7 linked regions of the Homo sapiens genome follow. The protein of the gene in region 1 purifies or fractionates together with the protein of each later gene. This does not show direct contact. Each region holds a gene or a part of one and is shown in the gene's direction. Other genes may lie near its edges.

Evidence for each region.
Region 2: the proteins of SLC22A4 (region 1) and TTK purify together in Homo sapiens (affinity purification with mass spectrometry; one large-scale study listed by BioGRID and IntAct). This does not show direct contact.
Region 3: the proteins of SLC22A4 (region 1) and ZDHHC21 purify together in Homo sapiens (affinity purification with mass spectrometry; one large-scale study listed by BioGRID and IntAct). This does not show direct contact.
Region 4: the proteins of SLC22A4 (region 1) and PDK1 purify together in Homo sapiens (affinity purification with mass spectrometry; one large-scale study listed by BioGRID and IntAct). This does not show direct contact.
Region 5: the proteins of SLC22A4 (region 1) and SLC6A8 purify together in Homo sapiens (affinity purification with mass spectrometry; one large-scale study listed by BioGRID and IntAct). This does not show direct contact.
Region 6: the proteins of SLC22A4 (region 1) and NDUFB3 purify together in Homo sapiens (affinity purification with mass spectrometry; one large-scale study listed by BioGRID and IntAct). This does not show direct contact.
Region 7: the proteins of SLC22A4 (region 1) and DSG2 purify together in Homo sapiens (affinity purification with mass spectrometry; one large-scale study listed by BioGRID and IntAct). This does not show direct contact.

What each region holds. Positions count from the first base shown.
Region 1 is NC_000005.10:132,296,875-132,301,340, forward strand, and holds part of SLC22A4 (solute carrier family 22 member 4), read left to right. Parts: intron 1-4,466.
Region 2 is NC_000006.12:80,010,762-80,015,227, forward strand, and holds part of TTK (dual specificity protein kinase TTK), read left to right. Parts: intron 1-52; coding exon 53-196; intron 197-672; coding exon 673-787; intron 788-967; coding exon 968-1,040; intron 1,041-1,124; coding exon 1,125-1,219; intron 1,220-2,517; coding exon 2,518-2,605; intron 2,606-3,701; coding exon 3,702-3,825; intron 3,826-4,466.
Region 3 is NC_000009.12:14,672,335-14,676,800, reverse strand, and holds part of ZDHHC21 (palmitoyltransferase ZDHHC21), read left to right. Parts: intron 1-2,415; 5' UTR 2,416-2,460; coding exon 2,461-2,614; intron 2,615-3,872; coding exon 3,873-3,971; intron 3,972-4,466. UniProt on the Homo sapiens protein: Palmitoyltransferase that catalyzes the addition of palmitate onto various protein substrates. Palmitoylates sex steroid hormone receptors, including ESR1, PGR and AR, thereby regulating their targeting to the plasma membrane.
Region 4 is NC_000002.12:172,558,830-172,563,295, forward strand, and holds part of PDK1 ([Pyruvate dehydrogenase (acetyl-transferring)] kinase isozyme 1, mitochondrial isoform 2 precursor), read left to right. Parts: coding exon 1-20; intron 21-3,390; coding exon 3,391-3,462; intron 3,463-3,911; coding exon of another isoform or gene 3,912-3,971; intron 3,972-4,466. UniProt on the Homo sapiens protein: Kinase that plays a key role in regulation of glucose and fatty acid metabolism and homeostasis via phosphorylation of the pyruvate dehydrogenase subunits PDHA1 and PDHA2.
Region 5 is NC_000023.11:153,690,711-153,694,006, forward strand, and holds part of SLC6A8 (sodium- and chloride-dependent creatine transporter 1), read left to right. Parts: intron 1-593; coding exon 594-843; intron 844-1,264; coding exon 1,265-1,397; intron 1,398-2,330; coding exon 2,331-2,465; intron 2,466-2,552; coding exon 2,553-2,656; intron 2,657-2,751; coding exon 2,752-2,876; intron 2,877-3,194; coding exon 3,195-3,296. UniProt on the Homo sapiens protein: Creatine:sodium symporter which mediates the uptake of creatine. Plays an important role in supplying creatine to the brain via the blood-brain barrier.
Region 6 is NC_000002.12:201,077,880-201,082,345, forward strand, and holds part of NDUFB3 (NADH dehydrogenase [ubiquinone] 1 beta subcomplex subunit 3), read left to right. Parts: intron 1-1,001; 5' UTR 1,002-1,003; coding exon 1,004-1,143; intron 1,144-4,466. UniProt on the Homo sapiens protein: Accessory subunit of the mitochondrial membrane respiratory chain NADH dehydrogenase (Complex I), that is believed not to be involved in catalysis. Complex I functions in the transfer of electrons from NADH to the respiratory chain.
Region 7 is NC_000018.10:31,545,929-31,550,060, forward strand, and holds the end of DSG2 (desmoglein-2 preproprotein), read left to right. Parts: coding exon 1-815; 3' UTR 816-3,080; downstream 3,081-4,132.

The sequences.
Region 1 (4,466 bases):
CCAAGTCCATAGCTACTCATGTTGTACGCTGTTCACAGGGACCTCTAAGGATGTACATCATCACACATTCACACACATGCACCAGGATTTGCTTTTTTTGGCAGCTTTTCCCTTCCTGGCTTCCTTTTTGAGTGGTGGAAGTAAAATAAAAAGCAACTAGGGGCTGGGCACAGTGGCTCACGCCTGTAATCCCAGTACTTTGAGAGGCTGAGGCGGGCAGATTACTTGAGGTCAGGAGTTTGAGACCAGCCTGGCCAACATGGTGAAACCCCGTCTCTACTAAAAATACAAAAATTAGCTGGGAGTGGTGGTGCACCCCTGTAGTCCCAGCTACTCGGGAGGCTAAGGCAGGAGAATCACTTCAACCTGGGAGGCGGAGGTTGCAGTGAGCTGAGATCACACCACAGCACTCCAGCCTGGGTGACAGAGCCAGACTGTGTCTCAAAACAAACAAACAAACAACAACAACAACAAAAAACTGGGCTCTGGTGGTTGGGAGGAGGAGGGAAGGAAGCAAGTACCAGGGTAAGCAGGATGGATGGATGGCTCTCCCCCAGAGGGGCGGCAGCACACAGAGTTCTGGAGTCAGACTCAGTAGAGGGCCAGTTTTGACTCCACTGCCAACCACCTGGCTGACTCCAGGCAGGTTACATCACTGATGAAAGCCTCAGTTTCCTTGTCTATAAATTGGGGGTACAAGCGATGAAAAGAGGCTCAACATCACTAATCACTAGGGAAATGCAAATGAAAATCATAAGGAGGTACCACTTTGTACCCTTAAAAATAGTTACTACAAAAAGAAAAAAAAAACACCCAGAAATCCACTTTGGGAGGCCGAGGCAGGAGGATTGCTAGGGGGCAGGAGTTCAAGACAGCACTGGGCAACATAGTAAGACCCCATCTCTACAAAAAATAAATAAAAAATTAGCCAGGCATGAGGGCATGTGACTGTAGTTCCAGCTTCTCAGGAGGCTGGGGCAGGAGGATCACTTGAGCCCAAGAGTTTGAGGTTGCAGTGAGCTATGACCATATCTCTGCACTCCAGCCTGGGTGACAGGGCAAGACCCCACCTCTAAAAAAGTGTTGTTGTTGTTTTTAAACACAGAAAATAACAAGTGTTAGTGAGGATGTAGAGAAATTGAAACCCTTGTTCATTCCTAGTGGGAGTGTAAAATGGTGCAGCCACTATGGAAAATAATGTGGTGGTCCCTAAAAAAATTAAAAATAGAATCACCATATGATCCAGCAATACTAATTCTGGATATATGTCTAAAATAATTGAAACAGGGTTTCAAAGAGATATTTGTACACCATGTCTATGGTAGCATTATTCACAATAGTCAAAAGGTGAAAGCAACCCAAGTGTCCTTCCACAGACAAATGGATAAACATAATGTGGTATATGCGTACAATGGACGATTATTCAGCTTTAAAAAGGAAGGACATGCTACAACGTGGATAAACCTTGAGGAGACTACGCTTAGTGAAATAAGCCAGTCACAAGACAAATTATTTTCTGATTTCACTACAGGAGTAGTCACACTCACAGAAGCAGAAAGTAAATGGTGGTTGCCAGGGACTGGAAGAAGGAAGGAGTAGGGAGTCGTTGTTTCATGGGTATAGAGTTTCAGTTTTGTAAGATGAAAGTAGTGTTGGAGATTGATTGCACAACAGTGTGAACGCTTCTGAACTGTACACTTAAAAATGGCTAAGATGGTAAACTGTATATTATGTGTACTTTATCTCAGTTTTCAAAATGGGGATAATAAGAGAAGCCACCTTATCTGAGTTGTTGGGAGGACTCAGTGAGATAATGCCCCATGCCCCATCCGGTGGTGGCCAGCACAGAGTGTGGCACCAGCAAAGAGTGTGGCACCAGCAAATGGGCTTCCTAGGTGGTGGTGAGGAGTGGTAAAGGCAGAAGCTCAGCACCTTCTTTGCCTTCTCCACTGGCTGGGGACAGTGGGCATGGTGGGAGCTGTTCTAAAGTCCAGGTTGTGGCCTGTGTAATAGGTGATGGGACTTGCTGGAGGCTGAGCCCCTCTCCCCACAGTGGCAGTTCCAAGCCTCAGAGAATAGAACACAAGTCCAAACCCATACTGACTTGGCCAGTGCCAGTGTACAGGGCCAAGCCCAGGGCCCCTGAGAAGGTTCTCTGCATCCCAGTTGGCACAACACAGGTAGTGGGACTGTCCTCAGATTGTGTCTTTGCCTTATACTGCCGTGCCAGGATCTCCCAATGGGCATATCTTTGGGGACAGACAAGTCTGCCTGAACTGCCCCCCAACACCTCTTCACAGGAGGACAGGGTTAGCCAGGAACCAAGGATGGCATGCTGTGCTGTAGAAATGCCTTTCATAGTATGCCAGGAGGTAGCAATAAGGTGTCTGAGTTGGGGTTTGCGTGAGTGCATTCGTCTGTGTGTGTACATGTGTATAAGGTAGTTTCCTTCTTCAGGGGTTGATTGTGAGGTCCAAGTTTTTCAACCTGTGCAGTTACTAAGAGTCAAATTATTTTTCGTTTTATTTTATTTTATTTTATTTTATTTTATTTTATTTTTTTGAGATGGAGTTTCTTTCTTCGTTCTTGTTGCCCAGGGTGGAGGAGTGCAATGGTGCCATCTCGGCTCACTGCAACCTCTGCCTCCTTGGTTCAAGCGATTCTCCTGCCTCAGCCTCCCGAGTAGCTGGGATTACAGGGGCCTGCTACCATGCCCGGCTAGTTTTTTGTTTGTTTGTTTGTTTGTTTTTTGTATTTTTAGTAGAGACAGGGTTTCACCATGTTGGCCAGGCTGGTCTCGAACTCCTGACCTAAGGTGATCCACCTGCCTCGGCCTCCCAAAGTGTTGGGATTACAGGCGTGAGCCACCGCGCCTGGCGATTATTTTTTAACTTTATTTTGAAATAACTTTTGATTTAGAGAGAAGTTTGAAAATAGTACAGAGATTTCACATATACCCTTCATCTAGCTTTCTCTGATGTTAACAATTTAAATACGCGTTATGCATTTATCCAAACCAGGAAATTAACATTGGTTACAATAGTAATAACTGAACTACAGACTTTGTTTGGATTTCACCAGTTTTTCTACTACTGCCCTTTTTCTATCGTAGGATCCCATCCAAAATCCCATGTTGTATTTAGTTGTCATGTCTCAGTCTCCAATCTGTGATTGTTCCTTAGTCTTTCCTTATCTTTCATGATCTTGACATTTTTATGAGTATTTTGATGAATGCTCCTCAGTTTGGGTTGGCATGATTTTTCTCACAATTAGATTGCGTTATGCACTTTTTGGTAATGATACCTTAGAAGTGATGCATTCTCTGGGCATCATACCAGTGGGTACATGATGCTGATGTGTCTTATTACTGGTGATGTTAACCTTGATCATTTGTCAAGTTGGTGTCTGTGGAATTTCTCTGCTGTAAAGGTACTATTTTTTCCTCTGTCACTAATAAATATCTTAAGGGAGGTTCTTCGAGATTATACAAAATCCTGTGTCTCCTCAAATTTTTATTCACTGATTTTAGCATTCATCACTAGGTCTTGACTGAAACAATTATTACTGCAGTTTGCCTAGTGATGATTTTGCATTTTCTGATTCCTTCAACATTTATTAATTGGAATTCTTCTGAGAAGAAGAGCTTCCCCTCCACATCTATTTATTAATGTATGCAATTGTTAACTTATATCAGTACAGGTTCATACATACTTATTTTATTTCATCAGTTATAAACTAATGCTATCCATCTTTATTTTGTTGCTCCAGTTATTCTAGCTCAAACCAAGTTATTTTTCACTTTAAGGATAGAGAATGTAGATATCCAGGGTAAGGGCCTTTATCTGTCTCTGCAGTCAGGGCTAGAGGAGTCTGTGTTTACCCCTGCGGGAGGAGTGCCAGTCACAGCTCGTTGCTAAGTTTTCCATCAGGCAGCAGTTGAGCAGGAACGCAAGCAGGGACTGGTGGGACCTGGGTTGGGACTGAAGCTTCTGTTGGGGAAGGAAGTGCCCCAAGCAACCCAGAGTGTCTGATGCTGGGGTCCTCATCCCTGAGACCTACTGCAGGGGTCAGATCTCAGTCTCCATGGGCATGGCCCTTCATATATAGCCCTCAGGGCCAAGACCTCAGAGAGAAGAGGCCCTGCGTGTGAGGAAACCCGGCAGCCTCCTGCCCTGAGGCTAAAGGAGCAGGAAGGGCAACAAATGCTCTGCTCTGGAGAGGGCCTAAGTTCATCTGCAGGGCCACAGGGCAAGCAGCAGAGGCAATCCTGGCTCGTGGCCAGGGGCTAAGCATGGGCTGGCCTTTGCCTCAAGCATGTCCTCTTCTCCCATGGAGCATCATTAGGGTCTTGACCTTCCCATCAGTCCATGGGCTGGGAAAACTGAGGCAGTCACCTCTAAGCTGGATACCACTTCTGCCAGGTCTTGTGCTCCAGAGGCCCTGGGGGAACCTTGTGTGTTAAGGAC
Region 2 (4,466 bases), on another chromosome or scaffold:
GGTGGTGGGCATTTTACTGCCTAAAAATGACAATTATCTTTTGCTTTGTTAGGTAATGTCAAAAAAAGTAAACAACTTCTTCAAAAAGCTGTAGAACGTGGAGCAGTACCACTAGAAATGCTGGAAATTGCCCTGCGGAATTTAAACCTCCAAAAAAAGCAGCTGCTTTCAGAGGAGGAAAAGAAGAATTTATCAGGTAACTATTAAGGTATACTAATACTTTCTGTGGTAGGTAGTACTTCAAATAAAGATTCGGGATAATAATTTATAGAAAAATATTATTTATGTAGAATGGTTAAAATCTAAGATTAAATTGTAAAGGAGGTAAGACTGAGAAGTAAAAAAGTCTCTACAACCCCATGCAAATTTGTCTTTTTTGCTAACTAAACTTTCGTTAACACATGAAAAACAACTCTAAGCAAGAGAATTTTTTTTTTTTTGCTTTTGGAAATAGAGAATGTGCTTTTACCCTGGGGAAATAGTTATATAATTTAAGAGAATTTGAAGAAGTAGTTAGATAATTATCTTGGTATCATCTTCATGTCTGCATATCTTACTTGGGGACAAGTATTTCCTATGAATTGACTTTTAAAATATTCTTATTTGTAAGATCACTTTTTTGTACTTGTCTTATTTCTTATAAATTTAATCATAGTTTCAAAATTTTTACAGCATCTACGGTATTAACTGCCCAAGAATCATTTTCCGGTTCACTTGGGCATTTACAGAATAGGAACAACAGTTGTGATTCCAGAGGACAGACTACTAAAGCCAGGTTTTTATATGGGTAAGGAAACGGAAACAGTTTTTAAATGTTCATCTTCTATGTAAGTACATCTGTGTTTTTTAATGTAATTACATGTATCTGCATATATGTTTTCATGTGTGTGATAATGTTTAGCAGTAGAGTAGAAATACATATTAATATTGTTCTTTGAAAAATTGGGGGTATTTTCTTTCTGTTTAGAGAGAACATGCCACCACAAGATGCAGAAATAGGTTACCGGAATTCATTGAGACAAACTAACAAAACTAAACAGGTAAGTTACTTTCAATCTGCTTGATTAAGGTGGTGATAGTCTTTATTTCCTAGTTGGTTATTTAATCTTTCAAAATATTTTTAGTCATGCCCATTTGGAAGAGTCCCAGTTAACCTTCTAAATAGCCCAGATTGTGATGTGAAGACAGATGATTCAGTTGTACCTTGTTTTATGAAAAGGTATGTTGAGTTTTAATTTTTAAAATTTGTTGTCCGTATGGGAAGATTAATGGCAGAATGGTCTTAAAGTCTTTTACTGAGTAATAGTAATTATGATTAAATTTTTATTCAGTTTTAGAAGATAATCTCTAAATGTTGTCAGGAACAAAGGAATGAGTGGAGAAAATAACTTTGTTTTGCTTTTTCACTCATTAAAAATATTCATTAAAGGAGCTTTAAAAGGAAAAAATATTAAGTCAACATTAAGCTTAAAAGACTGATATTTGAGGATTTGTCACTTACGGGTAGGCTGTCTGCTAAGAATCTCTTCCTGTTTTGTTTGAGAGTCTCCATAACGGGTAGAAGGAGGTCTGGGAACAAATATTTGCTCCAGATAGTTCAAGGGGAGAATCGCTGTCAGTGGGATAGATGATTATTCTTTTGCTTGAGTCTAGTGCTTCAAGAAGTGGGACAGGTTAGGTACAGATGAATTACTGTTCATCACATCCAGTGTGTTCTCCTTCCCTCAATTTGCTTGTTTATTCCCTGTTAAGAAATGGGAATGTAGCCTGTAGCTCAGCTAAAGGAGAGTTATTTTGGCCTATTCTTAATTCTGACCAACATTTGTAATATTTATATTGGAAAAGGCTCCTTACAGTCCAGAGAATCATTTTGCAAATAAACTTTAGAAATACGATTGTTTTTCATTACTATCTTTTATAATTACATTTCTATTATATTTAGACTTGACTAAATATTGACATTAAAAGAACATTTTGTTTGTCAAGGTTAAGCTTTAAAGTCTTATCACTATGATTTCATCTTGTTCATCTCTATTTCAAATACCTAGCTCAAGAATAAAGGAGATTTTCTTCCGCTCCAAAAAATTAAAAACAAAAACAGAAAAACTGCAGCCATTTTCTTGGTTCCTGTTATCGATAGACAATGCTAGGTACTGTGGAGGTCCACAGAAGTGCTATACCCTGGTTCTTATCCTTTAGCTATTTGTAATTGGAAATGTAGTTTCATCTGTATACTTTGCCTTTCCCACAGTCTAACCCTAACTCCAATTGTTACTGATTAGATAATGAAGAAGTAGGCGATCACCTGTGTCACTTTTGTCATTGCCCAGCACGTAATTTTGTTAGCTAAGTCACTTTTGTATTGGAATTATGTCACTCTAAAAAATGTCTTTTTAAGAGATTTTTTTCAATAAAAAGTATGTATATTATTAAAAATCCAACTTGAGATGAAAAAATACATTGAAAATTTTTTTTTTCAAATTTAATGTTAAAATTATTTTGTTTCACGGGTAAAAGACAAACCTCTAGATCAGAATGCCGAGATTTGGTTGTGCCTGGATCTAAACCAAGTGGAAATGATTCCTGTGAATTAAGAAATTTAAAGGTATTTTAATTCTATATCATTATATAAAGCAAGGGTTCCTGATCTGGGAGGATCAGTATTCATGGAGCTTTTTCTGGGGAAAGGGTTTATAAATAGTTCATGTATCTCCAACAGTGTTCCACATACCCCAAGAGCTGTGGGACTACGAGTGGGAAGTTGGTGCAGAAGTCCTAGACTATGTTTCTCCAAGATTAAGGTGGTAGAGCAAGGATCAACAATCTTTTAAGAGAATCATGAAGTAATATTTATTATGCACGTGTTTAAGCAGATAGTTGGCCTGGGTTTGGGAATACGTGACTGGGGGAACTGTTGCCCCCAAGTTTTGTTTTTTGTTATGTTTAATCATATGATTTTGGTAAGACATCTTAAAAAAAAATGAGAGAGTAAATTGAGTTAGGGCAGAGGTGAGGACATAAATAATCCTGACCTCCTGACATGGCAGAGCAACTTTGTGTGGACTTAAAGGAAATAATTTTAGTTCCTGGTACACTGTGATTTTTAGTGGTTATACTATTATTATAATTGAGTTAAACCCCTGGCATCATGATGTGGGTCTTTTCAATTTTATGTTCTTTGTAATGCCTCCCTCTTTCATGACCTATGCTTTAAGTATTAATTTTTCCTAATCCTGGCTGTCCTAGAGAACAGTGCATAATTGTGTCAAAAAGATTGTTCTCTGGATTTAGAGTAACTACTCTCTTAAGTTATGCAGTTACTAGTTTTGACTTATTTTTGGTGATAAAATAGCCATCACAGTAACAAAATACTTAAATCTTTTTTCTTGTCATGAGGCATACTCTATGTTGAATTCAAACTTTCTAACCCTTTCCATCTTTAAGTGAAATATATTTTAGCAATTGATTAATACATCCACTGAAAGCAAATTGGCCAGATTTATGGTTATGACCCTTCCCATTTCTCTAATTAATAATTCAGGCAGTTAACCTTTGCTGGGGGTTTGTGAGTCTACATATAATTATAATAGAAAATTTTATGAGCAATCCATGTATAGATAAGACTTTAGTATATTGAACAGTAAGACAGATTAGTAGTACTACTATTTATGGGACTTTATTTGATTTTCTTTTTCATGTAGTCTGTTCAAAATAGTCATTTCAAGGAACCTCTGGTGTCAGATGAAAAGAGTTCTGAACTTATTATTACTGATTCAATAACCCTGAAGAATAAAACGGAATCAAGTCTTCTAGCTAAATTAGAAGGTAAGAGTAACAAAATCAGTAGACTTGTATGTTTAGTTAAGAAAACCACTTGATAGCTTAAGAAAGCAGACTAGCCACCTAAGAATTATGATGTGAAACTGTGTCTATGTTCTTTTATCTTGAATTTCCGTTCAGTTATATAGGGTATATGAAAAGTACTGAATCCGCAGCAAAGGAAATTTATTTACCTAAAAGGTGCATAAAAGAAAGAGTGGAGGGAAAATGCAATGGAACTGAGTTTTTTTTCTCAGTTGGCTTGACAAATACTTTCTGGAAGGGATACAAAAGCTGTTTTTATATGACAGCTCTCATCTTTTATCAAGCGTTTGGTTTTCTACTGCATGGGTACTGTGATACATGTTCTAGGGATATATAAGTGGATAAAACAGTGTCCCAAGGAGGTTGCAGTTCAGTGTGGAAGATACACAGAGATATATAAATGCAATGCTGAATAGAATGTGGAGATTGTCATGAGAGCCACATAAATGAAATGCTATGAGAATTCAGAAGAGGGAGAAATTAAGGAACTAATTTGGTTTAGGAGAAATAAGGAAATATTTTGTGATGATGGTGAAGTTTGAAGAAACAAATTAGGATTTAAATGGGAAATAATAGAGTATTTCAGATGAAGAGGATAACAC
Region 3 (4,466 bases), on another chromosome or scaffold:
ATGTTTCTCTTTTTAACTGTGTAGATAGCTTACCATTTGTATTTGAGATTCCTTTATTAAAATGATTCTTAGCAAATTAAATAGCATGCTTTATCCTGTCTGACTTTCTTCATTTTAATGATACCAATCTGTCTTTTGATTTTTAAATTAAAAGATAAATAAATGAAACTTTTATTAGTTTAGTGGCCTGGGCACTATTTCTGTTTTAGAATTCATACACAAGTTAGAACATACCGGATTTAAACTATTAAGTGGTATTACATTTGAGTTCTTTTTTTGTTTTGTTTTTTGTTTTTTTTCTGCTGCCCCAATATTTGCAGGAACTAGGGATGAGAAACTGGGGGTATTCCTTTAAAATCAAGTATTCCTTAATCTCTTTTTCTTTGTTTCAGTAGCTTTATAGCTTTGAAGAACATGGGCAAGGCCTCTAAGGGATGGTGCCCTGAGGCTTTTCAATTGATTATGAATTGTTCTTAGAATGAAGTAGACTGGGATATAGGCTGAAAATCTGGGAATCACCCTTGACACTTTCCCCTGTAACCCCTAATATCTAATCAACCAGAAAAACACACTGGTTCGATTCTAGCAGTTGCTCCTTTCTGCAAACCTAATTTTGGCTTTTGCCTTCTCTTAGCCTAATGGACCTCTGTCTTTAATTTTATCATTCACACCAGAGCTTCAGTAATTTATTCACGGTACACATTTCGTCATGTTAATCCCCTGCTTCAATAGCTTTCCATTGCCGAAGAATTCAGTCTTAGCATTCTAACATGGCATCTTTATGTCCTTCATGATATAGGCCCATATTTCTTAGCACTCACTCTCCACAGAAAGCTTTATGATTTGTGATGGCAGGTTGTAATACCTCCCACAATTTCTACTCTTGCTCCTCCTATTCCTTCTGTTTGCAGTATTCTTGTCACTTTTCATTGCTTAGATAACTTTTACTAACCTTCTAAGACTGAATTCAGGTTTCACTTCTTACAGTAAGTCTTACTTGATTCCTCGTTTAACTGGTCCCATCTTCTGTGCCCCTACTAACATTTTGTTTTCAAATCTGGAACTTACCATATTATATTAAATCTTTTTTCTGATTCTTTTTCCCATTAGACTGTTCCTTTAAGCAAAGACCATGTCTTCTTCATCATTGTATCTGCAGTGTCTAGCAAGTGATAGGTGTGTAGTGGAGGCTCAGTGAATATTTGTTGAACTAAGTGAGTTCAACTCATTGTGGTAACATTGAAGTGTTAGTGAAGCTCATGGGTCAGTGCTTCCTAGACACCAGTCAGCTGTTTTCAGACTCTTGCAGAGCATTTTACAACATTTTATTGTTTTTTGAGTTTTATGAAGAATTATGATTCAGTAGATGTAGAATGGGGTCTGGGAATATGTATTTTTAAAAAGCTCCCCAGGTGTTTTTGGTTTTCTTACAGGCTAGAGAACCGTTGTCCTAGTTTATTATTATACCATTGTATTTTACGTAAAAGGTACCCCCTAGACTTTATACAGCAATTTATTATTTCATCCTTGGAAGTTATATCTACCAAAGTATGGATGTATTTTTAGTCACTTTTTTGGTACCATATTTATATAGAAGTATTTTAAGTCCTTAAGTGTCTCATTGAGAGATCTGTTGGCATATTGTTAACACTCAACTAAAAAAAGCCTCATTTAAACAGGAGTCTTCTTCAGTTGATCATAATGAGATTTGTTGGGCTTCATTCTATGAATTTTAGTATTTTTGGCAATTTGTAATTAGTTTTCACTTTTTATTGTCATTTTTCAAAATACTTAAAAAATGTTTTATTGTAGTTTAAAATTAAACTAGAGTGCACAAATCTGAAGTATACAGCTCAGTGAATGTTTACATATGTAGATACACATAAAGTACCACCCAGGTCAAGATATGGAACGTTTCCCAACCCCTCGTTCTCTCATGTTCCTTTTCAGTTAATATACACCCCTGCAACCACAAGGTAACCACTGTTTTGACTTGTGTGACCCATCAGTCTTCTGATTAAAGCTACTAAAAATTTTTGTACATAATCTTTTGGTGGACACGTGTATTCATTTCTTTTGGGTTTACACAGGAAGTTGCTGGGTTAAGGACAAACTTGTGTTTTAAATTCAGTAGATGATTCCAGTTTATACCTGTGATAGCAGTTCATAGTGAAACATTGAAATTATTTGAAGCTTATGATAAAATTTGAATATCCTGAAACTTCTGTTTGTTTTCCCAAGTATTTATTGTAAAAATATATATACAAAGAAATATCAATAAATATATCAACTACAGAAAGAAAATGTCAAATATGCAAAGAAAACTCAATGTCATTTTATAAAAGTTGCCAGAAATACAGGTTTTAGTCAAATTTTTCTATGTAAGTAATTATTTTCTTTGTTCCTTCTCCTTAGGATCATCCTTCCTTGTGGGTTAGCAGGCAGTTATAAGATTGCAAAATGGGTCTCCGGATTCACTTTGTTGTTGACCCACATGGTTGGTGCTGCATGGGTTTGATTGTCTTTGTTTGGTTATACAATATTGTTTTAATTCCCAAAATTGTCCTCTTTCCTCACTATGAAGAAGGACATATTCCAGGCATATTAATAATAAGTAAGTTTCTTGATCTTTATTTTCTTGTATAATTATTTTTCTCATTGTAAACGTTTTTGGGGTGTAGTGCCACTATGATAACTTTCCTTTTAATATATTTAGTATTTTAGCAGTGCTGTCAATATTCAGTTATTTACTAATTTATGAACTTATGGAAATAATGGCCTTTATAGATTTGCAGTTAGATAAAAGTGATATCTCCATTTTTAACTGCAAAGTGCATGAAGACCATTTTGTTAAAAATAGAAAACTGACACAGTAGTGATAACTTGCATGTCTCTCTGTATTTTTATTATTGCTGTTTTGTACCTAATTACAAATGTAGATGTTTTAAGAATAGAGACAGTATACATTACTGAGAAGTGAGAATTTCATAAGAAAAGTATTGATTACGAAGTTGATTATGATAACACTTGGAACTTCTGGATAGTTATTAGTCAATTGGTGATGGCTTGCTTATGATTAAAATAAATTGAAATTATATATTTTACATGTACATGGCATTTACAGTTTTCATGCACATTACCTCATTTTGACCTCACACGAACCATGGGAAATTTTATATATATATGATAAAACTGACCGGTACTATGCAGTCAGTCCTGGATTGAGCACTCAGACTATTCCCTTTACATGTACAGTATGTTTTTTTTTTTTATCGCCCCAACAGAATTTCTCTATTCTTACTAATTTAAAAATGTAGAATTATGGTGGCCAAATCTGTTTTCCCTTACTATTTTTGTTTTCTGGTTATTAATTTTAAAATTAAAAAGTTTCTAAGTCTTAATTATCAAACTAATCATTTTAAGATCCATCAAAAGGGACAGTTGAACATCACTAATTCAGAGTAATATTGAAGATACCCAGTTAGTTAATGAAAAAGTTTAGTTGTAGAATTTAAAATGGTATTTTGATCCTTTCAAATATAGAACATGCAGTAATTAAACGGGAGCCTATTCATTTATGCCATTATTAATAGGAAGTCCCTGTTATTAAGGGATCTGATTTATAAGAACTTTGAGTTACTATCATGTAAAATAATAATTAAAATTAGTAATGATTAAAATTAGGACTATTTAAGATAGTCCTCCTGACAGTGTTATTTGGTGAGTGAAATCAATTATTTATTTTTTAATCTTTTGAAATTTTTTCTCCTGATGGTGTTTGTTAAAATATACATTTTAAACTTTAAATATGATTGTTGATAAAATGTTTTGAAGGGTAAGTGACTAATTTATTTAATTTATTTATTTTAAAGTATTCTATGGCATTTCCATATTCTGTCTGGTTGCCTTAGTGAGGGCCTCCATAACTGATCCAGGAAGACTCCCTGAGAACCCCAAGATCCCACATGGAGGTATGGTACTCTGGATTTATCAGTTTTGCTGATGCCAGAATTACTGTCTTTATTTACATATTTTATTGCCTTTAATATATATTGGTTATAAATGTCATCTAACACCACTTTGATGTCTTTGCTTGTATGTGTCTTTTCCAAACTTCTCTACTTAAAATTGCAACCCTGCTCCCCCTGCACCCCGGCAGTTTCACCACACCCCATCTCTTGGCTTCTGTATCACATATCATATGATCCTCATGGTAATTGTATGAGGTAGGTAGGCTGGGTGGTCAGGAGCATAGATTGTCCTTCCTGGGTTAAACATCTGGTTGTTGGTGTGCGATCCAGCCCAAAGACCCAGAACCTTGTCTCTGTCATCTTATTACCATGGATCTATGTACAGAGATAATTTTAGCTTTTTATTCACCTTTGTTACGAATCTGGGGAAAACTTAAGTCATAATGTACTTTTTGGTGCTGGTTACCTGATTCTTTTGTAAATATGATTTTAATT
Region 4 (4,466 bases), on another chromosome or scaffold:
GTTCAATTGGTACAAAGCTGGTAAGATTCTCATCTTGTGTTTGCAATTTGATGGAGTTGTGGACTTTATTCAAGGTTACAGCAAATGCTTTTTTTTACTCTTTGGTGGAATCTTTTTTGTTTTGTTTTGTTTTGTTTGAGACGGAGTCTTGCTCTGTCGCCCAGGCTGGAGTGCAGTGGCGCGATCTTGCCTCACTGCAAGCTCCGCCTCCCGGGTTCAGGCGATTCTCCTGCCTCAGCCTCCCGAGTAACTGGGATTACAGGCACGTGCCACCACGCCCAGCTAATTTTTGTATTTTTAGTAGAGACAGGGTTTCACCATGTTGGCCAGGATGATCTCGGTCTCCTGAACTCGTGATCCACCCACCTTGGCCTCCCAAAGTGCTGGGATTACAGACGTGAGCCACCGTGCCCGACCAGAGTCTTAAGGTAGTAGCAGTATTCTTTTTTTGGCTGGGGGCAGGTGGGGGCAATGTATTTGGGCTTGTGCCCTGAATCGTGGACTCCACAACTTCTTGATTTTGAGAAAGCCAGTCAAAACTGCACTGAAATACAGATGCTAAATTTAGGATTTATGTTAGTATATCTTCAAGGATATTATAAGAAAAAATGTCTGCAATTTGTTGATGACTGGGTATTTATGTATATTGCCTTTAATCCCTTCAACAACCTTGCACAGTGGGTATGATTCTCTCCATTTTATTCATTGTTATTATTTTTATTTACTTTTTGTTTTTGAAATGGAATCTTGCTCTGTTGCCCAGGCTGGAGTGCAATGGCATGATCTTGGCTCACTGCAACCTCTGCCTCCTGGGTTCAAGTGATTCTCCTGCCTCAGCCTCCAGAGTAGCTGGGATTACAGGCACCTGCCACCATGCCTGGCTAATTTTTGTATTTTTAGTAGAAATAGAGGTTTCACCATGTTGGCCAGGCTGGTCTCAAGCTCCTGACCTCAGGTGATCCTCCCACCTTGGCTTCCCAAAGTGCTGGGATTACAGGCATGAGCCACCACTCCTGGCCTACTTATTTTTTTGAGACAGGTTCTTACTCTGTCACCCAGGTTGGAGTGCAGTGGTGATCACAGCTCAGCTCACTGCAACCTCCACCTCCCTGGCTCAGGTGATCCTCCCACCTCGGCCTCCTGAGTAGCTGGGACCACAAGTGCATGCCACACCCAGCTAATTTTTGTATTTTTTAGCAGAGATGGGGTTTTTCCATGTTGCCTACGCTGGCCTCAAACTCCGGAGGTCAAGGTATTTGCCCACCTGGGCCTCTCAAAGTGCAGGGATTATGGGCATGAGCCATTGTGTCTAGCCTGTTTATTATTTTTTAAATTAATTTATTTTCTTTTTAGAGACAGGGTCTCCATCACCCAGGCTAGAGTGCAGTAGTGTGATCATGGCTCACTGCAGTCTTGACCTCCTGGGGTCAAGAGATTCTCCTGCTAAGGCAGCTGCCTCCCGAGCAGCTGGGACCACAGCCATGCGCCACCATACCTGACCAATTCTTTTATTTTTTTGTAGAGATGGGGGTCTCACTTTTTTGCCCAGGCAGGTTGTGAACTCCTGGGCTCAAGCAGTCCTCTCACCTTGGCTTCACAAAGTGTTGGTATTACAGACATGAGCCACCGCACCTGGCAGGTTAACTCTGTACAGATGAGGATGCTGAGGCACATAAAGGTTAAATCTTTTGCGTAAGACAGTACCATTGATAGTGGAGTTGGGATTCAAACCCCCATTTGTCCATCTCTGCTATACCGTGCTATAGTCAGAATGATGAAATATATGAAAGGATATATGTATTTTTAATAAACTGTGTTTATTGAAGGGTATCTTTTTATAAATTACAAAAGTTAAAATGTTTATTTTTCTGTTTTAAAACAATTAGAAGTTTTTGGAATTGTGTAGAAAAAGTGTGATCTCTTCCCAAAGATAAGTAGAGATGTTAAGGGTATACACTCATGGAGCCACCTATATACAGCCTTCATTAATGTTACTGATTTAAAAGTGTTGTTCTTTTAAGCACTGTATGCTTCAAACAAATGAGTTGCCCAGAGTTAAGTCTTAAATGGAAAAGGTTTAGCTGCAGGGCATTTCCCAGTTATGATTCATGGAGATTCAAGTTTTCTTTTTGTAAGCATTATAGCGTATGGGAGAAGTTGATCTAATCGCAATTTAAAAAAGCAAAATATGACTGCTATATATATGATAATCAGATGCTATCTAGTCCAAGTATGGAATAGTTATAAGTGTGGATTAAATGGGAAGCATTTGTTTAGTAATTATGATGGGATATAATGGAGAAAATATAATATTCCATGGAAGATTTTTCCTGTTTTTAAAAAATTCTTCATTAGAAGTAGAATATGCTGCTTTTTGAAGCTTATCAGTCATGAGGTCTGATCGGTGCCTGTTGTAGGTACTCAAATATCTCTTGGATGGAGAGCGTAGTTGTTCTTGCCAATTAAGAGGAAATTAAGGGTTAAAGCAAAGCAGCAGCTGCTATCAGAATCCCTTAACTTTGGAATGCAGTAAGACATATTGCTTGTCAGAAACAGCTTTCCAAACCAACAGATGGAATTACAGGTTTTTAAAGCACTTCCATTGCTCCTAGATGCCTGCTAAGTTAGGACAGTTGCAGATAAAGTGCTTACAGCCAAGTGGAGCAGATCCCTTACACTGTCGAAGAAAGTAATTCAGTGGTAGCAAGTTATTTTTAGCTCTGGCCCCGCAGTGCCATTGTACTTGCCTGCAAGACCATCAGAAAATCATTTGGCCTTCTCTATTTTGCTCATTCCTTAACAGATGCTTTGATACTTCGAATTGTTAGATAAATTTAAAATGTACATTTTTATGACTTTTGTGTTTTTTGTTCAGTTTAAAAGAACCATGTAGATTATAGGCTTTCAATAAATACTTGTTAGTTGGACATAAATATGTAAAATTAAGGTTTTAAAGCACAGATATTTAAGATACAGTCTTAGAGCAAGAGAGGCTGTCCTCCTTTTACTGATAATAAGACAAATTAAGTCATTTGCCCAAGATCACATAGTTACTGGTGACAGATCTCAGCATAATCAGTATATATACTGTAATGTACAGTGGTAAATTAAAAAAAAATTAAAAGCCATTTTAGAATGTAGAACTCGGAAAATCTTAAAATTCTTAAATTTGACCTTTGCTTTTAGGAGAAAATGTGCACCTTCTACCATTCATTCCCAGCACTTTGCTTGAATGTGCATGGGTGTAAAAATTATACTTCAACCATAATTTATAGCAGTATTCTAAATTAAAAATTATAAAATGCTAAAAATAGCTTTTGAGCTAATTTTCATGATATTGAACTTTCAGAATATAAAAGAACAAACTTATCCTATTGATCTGCATTTTAGGTATATCCAGAGTCTTCAGGAGCTTCTTGATTTTAAGGACAAAAGTGCTGAGGATGCTAAAGCTATTTATGAGTAAGTTCACTATTTTGACCCTATTCTTAAACCTATTATTAGGTCACTTGGGGGAAATTGGTTAACTTTTAGGTTTCTACTACTTTAGAACATGTGATATATGTGACTGTAGCAGCCCATACAGGCAGGACAAATAACAATCAGCAAATTTGACTAGGCATAAGAAATGCTTCGTGTTCCTCTTTAACAAAAGACAAAGTTCAGGTGTGATGATCAGTGGAAATGTAGGTGTGGCCTCAGTGCCAGTTGGACTGTTCACCTGGAGGGTGCATGCTCCTTCTAATGGACAACCACCTTCAGCCCCAGCTGATCTTTGCCATATGAAAATACTGCCCATATCATCTGATTGTTTTCTGATTTTAAAGGAAAGCTACAAGTCTAGATTTGTAATGTAAAATCTCTCACTTTTGAAAGATTGGTAACTAATTAAAACATTTTTTAAAACACAGAAGGCCTAGAAGAACATGGTTGCAGGTCTCTAGTTTATGCTGTATGGCCTGCAAGATGATGTAAGTAATATGACAATGTTAATAACCCATATACCAGAATTGGTAAACCAAAGTATTTGCCTTATGCAGCTACCTGCTTATTGCAGTGAAGGGTACTGAGAGTGTAATGACCATCTCTTGTCCTCAGTTAGTTACACATGTTTTTTGGACTGTCTTTAAAGTGAACAGTAACACTTCATTTTTTTAAACATGATTTTAATCTGAAAATAACTTCAGCAAGAGTTTACTCCTTGCTTAGGTATTGAGCAGACTTTACATGAATGATGTTTTTTAATCTTTAAAACAATTCATTGAAATAATGCTGTTTGTGCACAAAGAGGGTAAGTAGTTTAAGGTTACATAGTTAGCAAATGGTAGAATCCAAGCAGTCTTACTTTAAAAGTAAACATTATGTTATAGAGCCTTCTGAAAACAGTCATTCAGAGCTGTGGAAAATAAGTAGTCAAGCAGAATAATACAGATTTGTGTTTCTTTGAAGCAGAAAGAAAATAATAA
Region 5 (3,296 bases), on another chromosome or scaffold:
CAAGGACAGGCCAGGCATAGCCGGGCTGGGGACGGGACCTGCCCAGCAGCACCCTTGGCTCTCTAGGTAGGTCCTACTGTTACTATCCCCAAGGACGCTGGGGCACAGACAGGTGGAGCGACGTACTGAGGTTGCCCACTGCAGGGGCGACTGTCTCCAACACTACCTCAGGCGACTAGAAACCCCCCCCCCCCACCACCACCATCAACACCAGCTGCTGAGGACTGGAGGCTACTGGGTGGCCAGGCAGAGGCTTGGACCTCCTGGAACCGCCATGGTGGCAGTGGGACCCACAGAAGGGGCCAGGTGTATGAGGCTGGAGACTCCACAGCACTTGGTCAGATGGGGACAGGAGGAGAGGGGCTCGCTCTGCCTTGGGTCTAGGGGGCGGCTGGAGGAGAGGAGACAGGCTGGGGAGTCAGCGCAGTGTTGGGGCTCACACAAGGGGGAGCCCAGGGGAGTCAGGAGCACCACAAACAAGGCTCCAGGAGGACAGATGGTGGGAGCACGGCCAGCCTGGGTGGGGACATAAAGGGGTGGCAGGGGGAGGTGGCCAGGGAAGAATCTACATGGCAAGGACTTCCCGGCCCCAGGCCTGGGCTACGCCTCCATGGTGATCGTCTTCTACTGCAACACCTACTACATCATGGTGCTGGCCTGGGGCTTCTATTACCTGGTCAAGTCCTTTACCACCACGCTGCCCTGGGCCACATGTGGCCACACCTGGAACACTCCCGACTGCGTGGAGATCTTCCGCCATGAAGACTGTGCCAATGCCAGCCTGGCCAACCTCACCTGTGACCAGCTTGCTGACCGCCGGTCCCCTGTCATCGAGTTCTGGGAGTGAGTCCGGCACCTCTGGGCCAAGCCCATCCCATCCCCCAGGTCTCCCTCATGTTGCCCGGCTCCAGGGGAGTGGCCCTGAGGGGGCACCAGGGTGTTGCCTGGCAGTCCATCCTGGACCCTGCCTGCCCTTGCCTGTCCTCGGAGAGTCCTGGGGCCAGCCTCGCTCCTGGGTTCGGCAGCCGATCACTGTCCTGGTCACTCCCCCCTGATGGGGGAGCTGGGGCTGCATGTGAGGTGGGATGGGAGTGGCCTCCCAATGGCCAGGGGATCGTGGGCTCCAGGCCCAGCCCAATTGGACAAGAGGGACCCGCTGAACCCTGGGCTGTGGGAGAGAAGGGAGCCACAACTCCTGGGGGTGGACCCTGTGGCTCCATCCTCTGCTGGCACAGGCCTCATGGGACCTCCCTCCCTCCCCTAGGAACAAAGTCTTGAGGCTGTCTGGGGGACTGGAGGTGCCAGGGGCCCTCAACTGGGAGGTGACCCTTTGTCTGCTGGCCTGCTGGGTGCTGGTCTACTTCTGTGTCTGGAAGGGGGTCAAATCCACGGGAAAGGTACCACTAGAGGCATGCAGCGGGGAGGGTGGCTCAGCCCTGGGAGCCGGATGTCTGTGCCAGGCACACCTGTGGCAACGGGAGGTGACCAGACAGAGTCTAGCCCTAAGGAAGGGGGAGGTACTGAAAGCCAAGCAATGCTCCCCACCCTGCAAATCCAGGGCCCAGCAGCCTTTGCTCCTGGGGATAGAGGCCCTGGCAGGCACTGTCCCTTCCCTGTGCCCATCACCCCCACTGGTGCCCTCCTGCCAGTCTCTGACTCTTGTGACAGTCTGGTGGACCTGGTCTGGCCATCTGTTACCTATCTTGCCTTGGGGACCCAGAGCAGAGTCTGGCCACATCCCTTGGGGGCTCCTGGTCAGGCTGGGGAGTCACCTGAACAAAGAAGACAGTGTCTAGAGCTGTGGGACATGGCCAGCTCCCTGGGGGACAAGGTCCCCAGAGCAGCATGTGGGAAGAGGGGGCAGACAGTGTGGCAGCTGCATCTCGCCTGCCTCTGCCTGGCCCAGTTCCACTCTCCACCTGCTCAACCCCCACCTCTCTCCAGAAGAGGAGGGGGACCCGACCCGGATCCAATATCCCGCTCCCTGCCTGGGCCTCCCACACCTGCACTGCCCACACACTCATACAGCTCTCACTCCCCACGTGCTCCACGCCTCCTGTCCCCACTGAGGAGAGCTCCCAGAGGCTCGCCTGCTCCCCACCGACACGCGTCCCTGCAGACAAACGAGGCGCCCAGGGAGCTTCCCCACTGCACTTGGCCAGGGCTGCCGGGGCGCAGCCTTGCCCCTAGCTTCCTCTGGCGGGAGCCATGGCTCGGAGGACAATGGGGACCTCTGAACATACCTGCCCGCAAGGGGGACCGGAGGCGCTGGGAGTGGGGGTGTGAGGGAGGTGGTGCCACAGCCTCCGCTGAGCAGCCTGGCCCCCCAGATCGTGTACTTCACTGCTACATTCCCCTACGTGGTCCTGGTCGTGCTGCTGGTGCGTGGAGTGCTGCTGCCTGGCGCCCTGGATGGCATCATTTACTATCTCAAGCCTGACTGGTCAAAGCTGGGGTCCCCTCAGGTGAGGTGGAGGTGGAGAGGCTGCAGCAGGGCGCTGCGGGGGAGCCCTGCAGGCCCCTCATGCCTGCGCTCTCCGGCCCTTCTCTAGGTGTGGATAGATGCGGGGACCCAGATTTTCTTTTCTTACGCCATTGGCCTGGGGGCCCTCACAGCCCTGGGCAGCTACAACCGCTTCAACAACAACTGCTACAAGTAAGCACCGCCGCCCTGCCACCCGTGCCCTGTCCTGCCCTGCCCCGCCCTGCCCAGCAGCCTAACCCATCCACTCTGGCCCCTCCACCCCTCAGGGACGCCATCATCCTGGCTCTCATCAACAGTGGGACCAGCTTCTTTGCTGGCTTCGTGGTCTTCTCCATCCTGGGCTTCATGGCTGCAGAGCAGGGCGTGCACATCTCCAAGGTGGCAGAGTCAGGTAGGGCCCTACCCCCAGCCCCGCCTCCAGAGCAGCGAGTGCTACCCAGATGCATGATGTACAGGAACATGCAATAGAAATGCTGAAAAGTGACGAGGATTCAAACGGAACTTGTCAGATTGTGGGCCTGTGGGGGCAGGTCCTGGGATTTGTCAATGTTGACAGAGAAAGGACCTCCCAGCCCCTGCCGCACGACCCAGGGTTGACAGCGCCTCTGAGGCAGGCGTGGGCATGGGCGCGAGTGTTGCAGGCAGGGCTCAGGGTGCGCACAGGGCAGGACATCGGCTACAAGGTCTAGAGCCTGCACCTTTCCCACAGGGCCGGGCCTGGCCTTCATCGCCTACCCGCGGGCTGTCACGCTGATGCCAGTGGCCCCACTCTGGGCTGCCCTGTTCTTCTTCATGCTGTTGCTGCTTGGTC
Region 6 (4,466 bases), on another chromosome or scaffold:
GTATTTAAAAGCATTGCATTTTAAAAGAATCATCTAAAGAAAATTTTTAAAACAGGATGTATAACCTTTTTATTATACATATTTATGCATTATGAAAGGATTCAAAAGGAAAACAATATTGCTTAGAAGTTAGGAGCAGGGGGCCGGGTGCGGTGGCTCACACTTGTAATCCCAGCACTTTGGGAGGCTGAGGTGGGTGGATCACGAGGTCAGGAGATTCAGACCATCCTGGCTAACATGGTGAAACCCCGTCTCCACTAAAATTACAAAAAATTAGCCGGGCGTGGTGGCGGGCACCTGTAGTCCCAGCTACTCGCCAGGCTGAGGCAGGAGAATGGCGTGAACCCGGGAGGCGGAGCTTGCAGTGAGCCAAGATTGCACCACTGCACTCCAGCCTGAGCGACAGAGCGAGACGCCGTCTCAAAAAATAAGAAGAAGAAGAAGTTAGGAGCAGGGTTCTAAAACCAAACTGCAAGGTTCTAATCCCAGCTGTACCATTACTATTTTTGTTACCTTTGGAAAGTTACTTAATTGCTTGGAGTCTCATTGTCCTCATCTGTAAAATGGGGATACTCATTATTTAAGTTCAAAGAGTTGTTTTAGAGGTAATGGAGTTAATACACATAAAGCATTTTAGCATATGTTTACTATTTATAAAGAGTTGTTTTAGAGGTATTGGAGTTAATACACATAAAGCATTTTAGCAAATGTTTACTATTATTATAATGAAGAAAAGAACCAGATAGTAAATGGTTATCTCTGAGTGATGAGATTGCCAATTATTTTTCTTTTTTATATTTTGTGTATGTGTATTTCCTAACTGTGAACATGGTTGTAGAATAAGACACTTTTATAAAATCCTTTAACTGGAATTTTCAAGTATTTATATTGGCTTTTTTTTTTAATATTAAATGCTTTACCTTAAAACATAAACAATAAATTTGGGTATTTGATATCTACAATTTGCATATTTCTCACTTGTGTTAATCTTTTCCTTACAGACATGGCCCATGAACATGGACATGAGCATGGACATCATAAAATGGAACTTCCAGATTATAGACAATGGAAGATAGAAGGGACACCATTAGAAACTATCCAGAAGAAGCTGGCTGCAAAAGGGCTAAGGGATCCATGGGGCCGGTAAGATGAATTAAGTAATTTAGATAGAATGTATCCTAGAGAATCAAGTGTCTATGTTGCTTTTCAATGTATTCTCCTTAGAGAATCATGAAAAATGGCTTTTTACTTTAAAGGGTTTTTTTTGGTTTTTGTTTTGTTTTTGAGACGGTGTCTTGCTGTGTTGCCAGGCTGGAGTGCAGTGGCGCGATCTCAGCTCACTGCAGCCTCCGCCACCCGGGTTCAAGTGATTCTCTTGCCTCAGCCTCCCAAGCAGCTGGGATTACAGGCACGCGCCACCAAGCCCAGCTACTTTTTGTGTTTTTAGTAGAGACGGGGTTTCACCATGTTGGCCAAGATAGTCTCGATCTCCTGACCTCGTGATCCACCTGCCTCAGCCTCCCGAAGTGCTGGGATTACAGGCATGAGCCACCACGCCTGGCTACTTTAAAAGTTTTTGGTTTGTTTTGAGACAGGGTCTCACTCTGTCACCCAGACTGGAGTGCAGTGGTGCGCTCACAGCAACCTCCATCTCCCAGGCTTAAGCAATCCTCCCACTCCAGCCTCCCTAGTAGCTGAGACTACAGGCATGGGCCACCATGCCCAGCTAATTTTTATATTGTTAGTAGAGACAGGGTTTTGCCATGTTGCCCGGGCTAGTCTCAAATTCCTGAGGTGAAGTGATCTGCCCACCTTGGCCTCCCAAAGTGTTAAAATTACAGGCATGAGCCGCTACACCTAGCCACATTAAAATTTTAAAATCGACTTTATTGAGCTATCGTTTATATATAGTAAAATTCACCTGTTTTGAGTGTAAGTCCTTTATCAGATAAAAGTTTTGTGGTGCTTGCTTCAGAAACATATATACTAAAATTGTAATACAGAGAAGTTAGTATGGCCCTGTGCAAGGATTTAAAACAATTTTTTTTAAGGTTTGCAAATGTTTTTTCTCACAGTGTGGCTTATCTTTTTATTTTCTGAATAATGTCTTTCAGAGAGTTTTAAATTTTGATGAATTCACAATTTAGCAATTTTTAAATTTTACAATGTATCCTTTTTGCACCCTAAGATTATCTTCTATGCTTTCTTTTAGAAGCTTTTATAGTTCTTCTTACATTCTGTGATCTGTTTTGAGTTCATTTTTGTGTCATATGAAGTAAGGATGAAGATTAGTATTTTTACATATGTGCATCCAGTTGCTCCAGCACCATTTATTAAAAAATTATTGTACCTCCGTTGAATTACCTTAATAATGTTGTCAAAAATCCATTGAGTGATTTTTGACACTCAATGTGGGTGGTGGCTCGCACCTATAATTCCAGCACATTGGGAAGCCAAGGCAGGCGGATCGCTTGAGCCCAGGATTTTGAAACCAGCCTAGGCAGTACAGGGAGACTTTGTCTCTACAAAAAAATTTTAAGAATTGCCAGATGTGATGACACACACATGTAGTCCCAGCTACTCAGGAGGCTGAGGTGGGCAGATCACTTGAGCCCAGGATGTCCAGGCGGCAGTGAGCCAAGATCTGGCCACTGCACTCCAACCTGGGCAACAGAGAGAGACCTTGCCTCAAGAAAAAAAAATCAATTGACTGTATCTATGGGATCTATGTCTGGACTGTACTCTGTTACCCTCATTAATATGTCCACCCTTATGCCAATACCACAGTGTCTTTAAATTACATAGCATAAGATCTCCAACTTTTTTTTTTTTTTTTTTTTTTTGAGACAGAGTCTCACTCTGTCACCCAGGCTAGGGTGTGGTGGCTCAATCTGGCTCGCTGCCAGCTCCACCTCCCGGGTTCACGCCATTCTCCTGCCTCAGCCTCCTAAATAGCTGGGACTACAGGTGCCTGCCACCATGCCCTGCTAATTTTTTGTATTTTTAGTAGAGACGGGGTTTCACCGTGTTAGCCAGGATGGTCTGGATCTCCCGACCTCATGATCCACCCGCCTCAGCCTCCCAAAGTGCTGGGATTACAGGCATGAGCCACCGTGCCCAGCCAAGATCTCCAACCTGTAAAAAATTGTTTTAGCTATTCTAGGTCCTTTGCTTTTACATATAAACTTTGGAATGAACCTGACAATTTCTATTAAAATCCCTGCTTGGATTTTAATTGGGATCACATTGAATCTGTTTCACATAGATTCACAATGGGAATCTATTTCACATCCACATTGAATCAGATTCCCATCAATTTAGGGGCCAGGCATGGTGGCTCACACCTGTAATTCCAGCACTTTGGGAGGCCGAGGCGGGTGGATCACTTAAGGTCAGGTGTTCGAGACCAGCCTGGGCAACATGGGAAACCCTGTCTCTACTAAAAATACAAAAATTAGCCAGGTGTGGTAGTGGGTACCTGTAATCCCAGCTACTCAGGAGGCTGAGACAGGAGAATCACTTGAACCCGCGAGGCTGAGGTTGCAATGAACCAAGATCGTGCCACTGCACTCCAGCCTGGGCAACAGAGTAAGCTTCCATCTTAAAGAAAACAAAAAATTTAGGGATAAGTGATGTCTTAACAATATTAAGTCTTCTAGTCAATGGGCAATTTAGGTCTTGTTCATTTTATCAGCAGTATTTTATTGCTTTACGTACAGGTCTTGCACATATTTTATTAAATTTATACTGAATTAATTATTTATTTTATTTTATTTTATTTTTCTGGGAGACAGAGTCTCACTGTGTCACCCAGGCTGGAGTGCAGTGGCACAATCTTGGCTTACTGCAACCTCTGCCTCCTGGGTTTAAGCAATTCTCCTGCCTCAGCCTCCTGAGTAGCTGGGATTACAGACGTGCACCACCACGCCCAGCTAATTTTTTTTTTTTTTTTTTGAAATGGAGTCTCGCTCTGTCACACAGGCTGGAGTGCAGTGGCACGATCTCCGCTCACTGCAAGCTCCGCCTCCTGGGTTCACACCATTCTCCTGCCTCAGCCTCCCGAGTAGCTGGGACTACAGGCGCCCACCACTATGCCCGGCTAATTTTTTGTATTTTTTAGTAGAGATGGGGTTTCACTGTGTTAGCCAGAATGGTCTCGATATCCTGACCTCATGATCCACCCACCTCAGCTTCCCAAAGCGCTGGGATTACAGGCATGAGCCACCGCGCCAGGCCTAATTTTTGTATTTTTTTGGTAGAGATGGGGTTTCACCATGTTGGCCAGGCTGGTCTTGAACTCATGACCTCAAGTGATCCGCTCGCCTCAGCCCCCCAAAGTGCTAGGATTACAGGTTTGAGCCATCAGGCCTGGCGTTGTTTGTTTGTTTGTTTGTTTGTTTGTTTTGGGAGATGGAGTCTCCGTCGCCCAGGATGGAGTGCAATGATGCCGTTTTGGCTCATTGCAG
Region 7 (4,132 bases), on another chromosome or scaffold:
ATAAGGAAATTGAGCAGAGACAAAAACCTGCCACAGAAACAAGTATGAACACAGCTTCACATTCACTCTGTGAGCAAACTATGGTTAATTCAGAGAATACCTACTCCTCTGGCAGTAGCTTCCCAGTTCCAAAATCTTTGCAAGAAGCCAATGCAGAGAAAGTAACTCAGGAAATAGTCACTGAAAGATCTGTGTCTTCTAGGCAGGCGCAAAAGGTAGCTACACCTCTTCCTGACCCAATGGCTTCTAGAAATGTGATAGCAACAGAAACTTCCTATGTCACAGGGTCCACTATGCCACCAACCACTGTGATCCTGGGTCCTAGCCAGCCACAGAGCCTTATTGTGACAGAGAGGGTGTATGCTCCAGCTTCTACCTTGGTAGATCAGCCTTATGCTAATGAAGGTACAGTTGTGGTCACTGAAAGAGTAATACAGCCTCATGGGGGTGGATCGAATCCTCTGGAAGGCACTCAGCATCTTCAAGATGTACCTTACGTCATGGTGAGGGAAAGAGAGAGCTTCCTTGCCCCCAGCTCAGGTGTGCAGCCTACTCTGGCCATGCCTAATATAGCAGTAGGACAGAATGTGACAGTGACAGAAAGAGTTCTAGCACCTGCTTCCACTCTGCAATCCAGTTACCAGATTCCCACTGAAAATTCTATGACGGCTAGGAACACCACGGTGTCTGGAGCTGGAGTCCCTGGCCCTCTGCCAGATTTTGGTTTAGAGGAATCTGGTCATTCTAATTCTACCATAACCACATCTTCCACCAGAGTTACCAAGCATAGCACTGTACAGCATTCTTACTCCTAAACAGCAGTCAGCCACAAACTGACCCAGAGTTTAATTAGCAGTGACTAATTTCATGTTTCCAATGTACCTGATTTTTCATGAGCCTTACAGACACACAGAGACACATACACATTGATCTTAAAATTTTTCTCAGTCACTGATATGCAAAGGACCACACTGTCTCTGCTTCCAGGAGTATTTTAGAAATGTTCCACAATTTACTGAAGACATAGAGATGATGCTGCTGCTTAGGTGCCTTTTAGCAAGCTATGCAAACAATCCTGATAAAACAAGATACATAGAGAGTCAATCTGGCTTCTGAGAATTTACCAAGTGAACAGAGTACCTAGTTCATCAGCCGTCCAGTAAAGCAACCCAGGAAACTGACTGGGTCTCTTTGCCTACCGTATTAACATTAAACATTGATGTTCTGTATTCTGTACTTTACTGCACCCAGCAGACTTTCAACAACTCATTGATCCAAAGATACATGCACAGTCTGAGCACCAGCTATGGTGCTCATAACTTCTTTAAGACTTGAACCCTTTCAATCTGTGTGATTCATTAAATTGGACCATTGATGATAAGAATACACATTGTATGTTTCTGTGCACATGACAGTGTGTGTGTGTGCACGTACATACTGTATAGTCTTAAAAATAGCATTATACTGGCCAGGGGTGGTGGCTAACGCCTGTAATCCCAGCACTTTGGGAGGCCGAGGCGGGTGGATCAACTGTGGTCAGGAGTTTGAGATCAGCCAGGCCAACCTGGTGAAACCCCGTCTCTACTAAAAATACAAAAATTAGCTGGGCGTGATGGTGGGCGCCTGTAATCCCAGCTACTTGGGAGGCTGAGGCAGGAGAATCACTTGAACCCGGGAGGCGGAGGTTGCAGTGAGCCGAGATCGCACCATTGCACTCCAGTCTGGGCAACAGAGTGAGATTCCGTCTCAAAAAAAAAAAGAAAAGGAAAAAAAAATAGCATTATACCTCTTCCTTGTCTCAACCGCCATGAAAATTCTGAACACTCCAAATTCAGTTGAATAATCCAAAACAAAATTTATAAGTATAAAATAATTTTACTTCTTATAGTAATAGTATACTTTAAAAAGCCTCAGGGTATATTATCTTCTAAACAGCTACAATTCAGTGCAGCTACATTAACCAACTATGTTCTCTAGTTGAGAACAACTAGGCCTATTTCACTGCTGTGTAGCCTCAGTGCCTAACATGGGTGCCAAATAAATATTCGTAGAATTACACTGAATTGTAAAAACCATTCGTTTTTGTTTACAATTGCCAAAAATCTCAAAAGGCCCTGTATTTATGTAATTCTTTGAAATTATTATTTTATTTTGATTTCTCAGTTATTGACTGGCTGGGTGTGACTTAGTACATAAGTACTCAATATTATAAAAACCTCAAATAATTGACTTGATTTTACACAACATCCTTCCCTTTTCTACAAGTTAATTTTTTTACAAATCATTTGGGTTATCTCCTAAATAGGTTATATTTTATTGCTTCTAGAAACAATGTTTCAAAATATATGTGCATTATCAGTAATAATTTGTATAAATATTTCCCACAACAATTTTCATAATTTTCAAAGACTAATTTCTTGACTGAAGATATTTTGCTAGGGAAGTGAAACTTTAAAATTTTGTAGATTTTAAAAAATATTGTTGAATGGTGTCATGCAAAGGATTTATATAGTGTGCTCCCACTAACTGTACAGATCAGGACACATATTTTTAGACATCTAAGTCTGTAGCTTAAATGGAGGTTACTCTTCCATCATCTAGAATTGTTTACTTAGTAATTGTTGTTTCTTTTATTATTATAGACTTACTATCAGTTTTATTTTGCCAAGTATGCAACAGGTATATCACTAGTATATGAAAATGTAAATATCACTTGTGTACTCAAACAAAAGTTGGTCTTAAGCTTCCACCTTGAGCAGCCTTGGAAACCTAACCTGCCTCTTTTAGCATAATCACATTTTCTAAATGATTTTCTTTGTTCCTGAAAAAGTGATTTGTATTAGTTTTACATTTGTTTTTTGGAAGATTATATTTGTATATGTATCATCATAAAATATTTAAATAAAAAGTATCTTTAGAGTGACCCTTTCCCCATAGATTTTTATTTCTCTATTATATTTTACAAGGAATATAACTCAGTTTGTTAGGGAGAGTGCCTTAAAGGCAGGTGTTTCTTGGACTTTGTTATTTAATTAGATCTGCTTGCAATAAAAAAAGTTGTCGGTTATCTAAAATTCAAATTTATCGGGGTACTTGGCATTTTCATTGTCCAACTCTGGCAACCTTGTTCCTAAGGAAGTGAAGGTTGCTCTCTGCCCAGAGTAACACTGGAGAAATCTGTTGGGTCTGGCAGAAGAAGGCTAGTATATCTAACCCAAAGAGATGAAATCATTCTACCAATGTTTGAGAGGCTGTTTTAATTGCTTGTTATAGTTTAGAAGGGAAAAGATCAGAGTTGCTGCTATAAGAGAAGAAAAACAAATTTTCTTCTAGGTCCCCAGCTGGGGCTCTGTAACAAAACACAGATTAACAAGAGAAAAACAAACATTAGTCTGTTAACATGTGTATCTCATGCATGCTTTGGAGTAACTGGAATGAGCAGCTCAAAGGGGTGGTTAGAACTTGGGTGTAAAATGTTAAAAGAAGAGCTTTAAACAAATTAAATCTAACAGTTTACTTAAGCAAAGAAAGGTTCACAAAATTGGGCTGCCCTGGAACTAGAAAAGGTTCGGAGAACTCTATTCTACAATAATGAGCAGGCCGTATTCATAGACAGAAAATGGAAGTGAGGTAGGGAAGCTGCTTGATTGGTTACAGCTGAGCCTTTGCCTTATTTGGAGGTGGGCTGATCAGTTGGCAGCCAGTGACTGGCTGAAACTCAGCTGCTGTGATTGATTGACGCTCAGCTATGTATTACAAAAATATACTCCTAAATTAGGCTTTCAGTTCATTTATGTACCAAGCTAGGCTGCAGTTCGTCATGTGGGGACTCAAGGTATGGAGGCAGCCTCAGGCCCAGTTTAATTTAATAATATACCAACTTGGGCTAAAACATAGGAAAGGGGATTAGGGGCTTCTGGGCAGGGGAAACAAGTTATGGGAAGGTGACCAGGAAAAGTCTGGTAAGCTTGAGTAAGATTTGTCATGCAGATTTAAATTAATCTCTTTGTCACTTATAGTCATCCCGTGTTTCCGGTACGGAGGGAGACAGCCTTACAAATGGACATTTCCCTTATAAATGTAAATCCCTTTACAAAAGGTAAACTTACGTTCTGTCTTCAGAGTTTCTCCT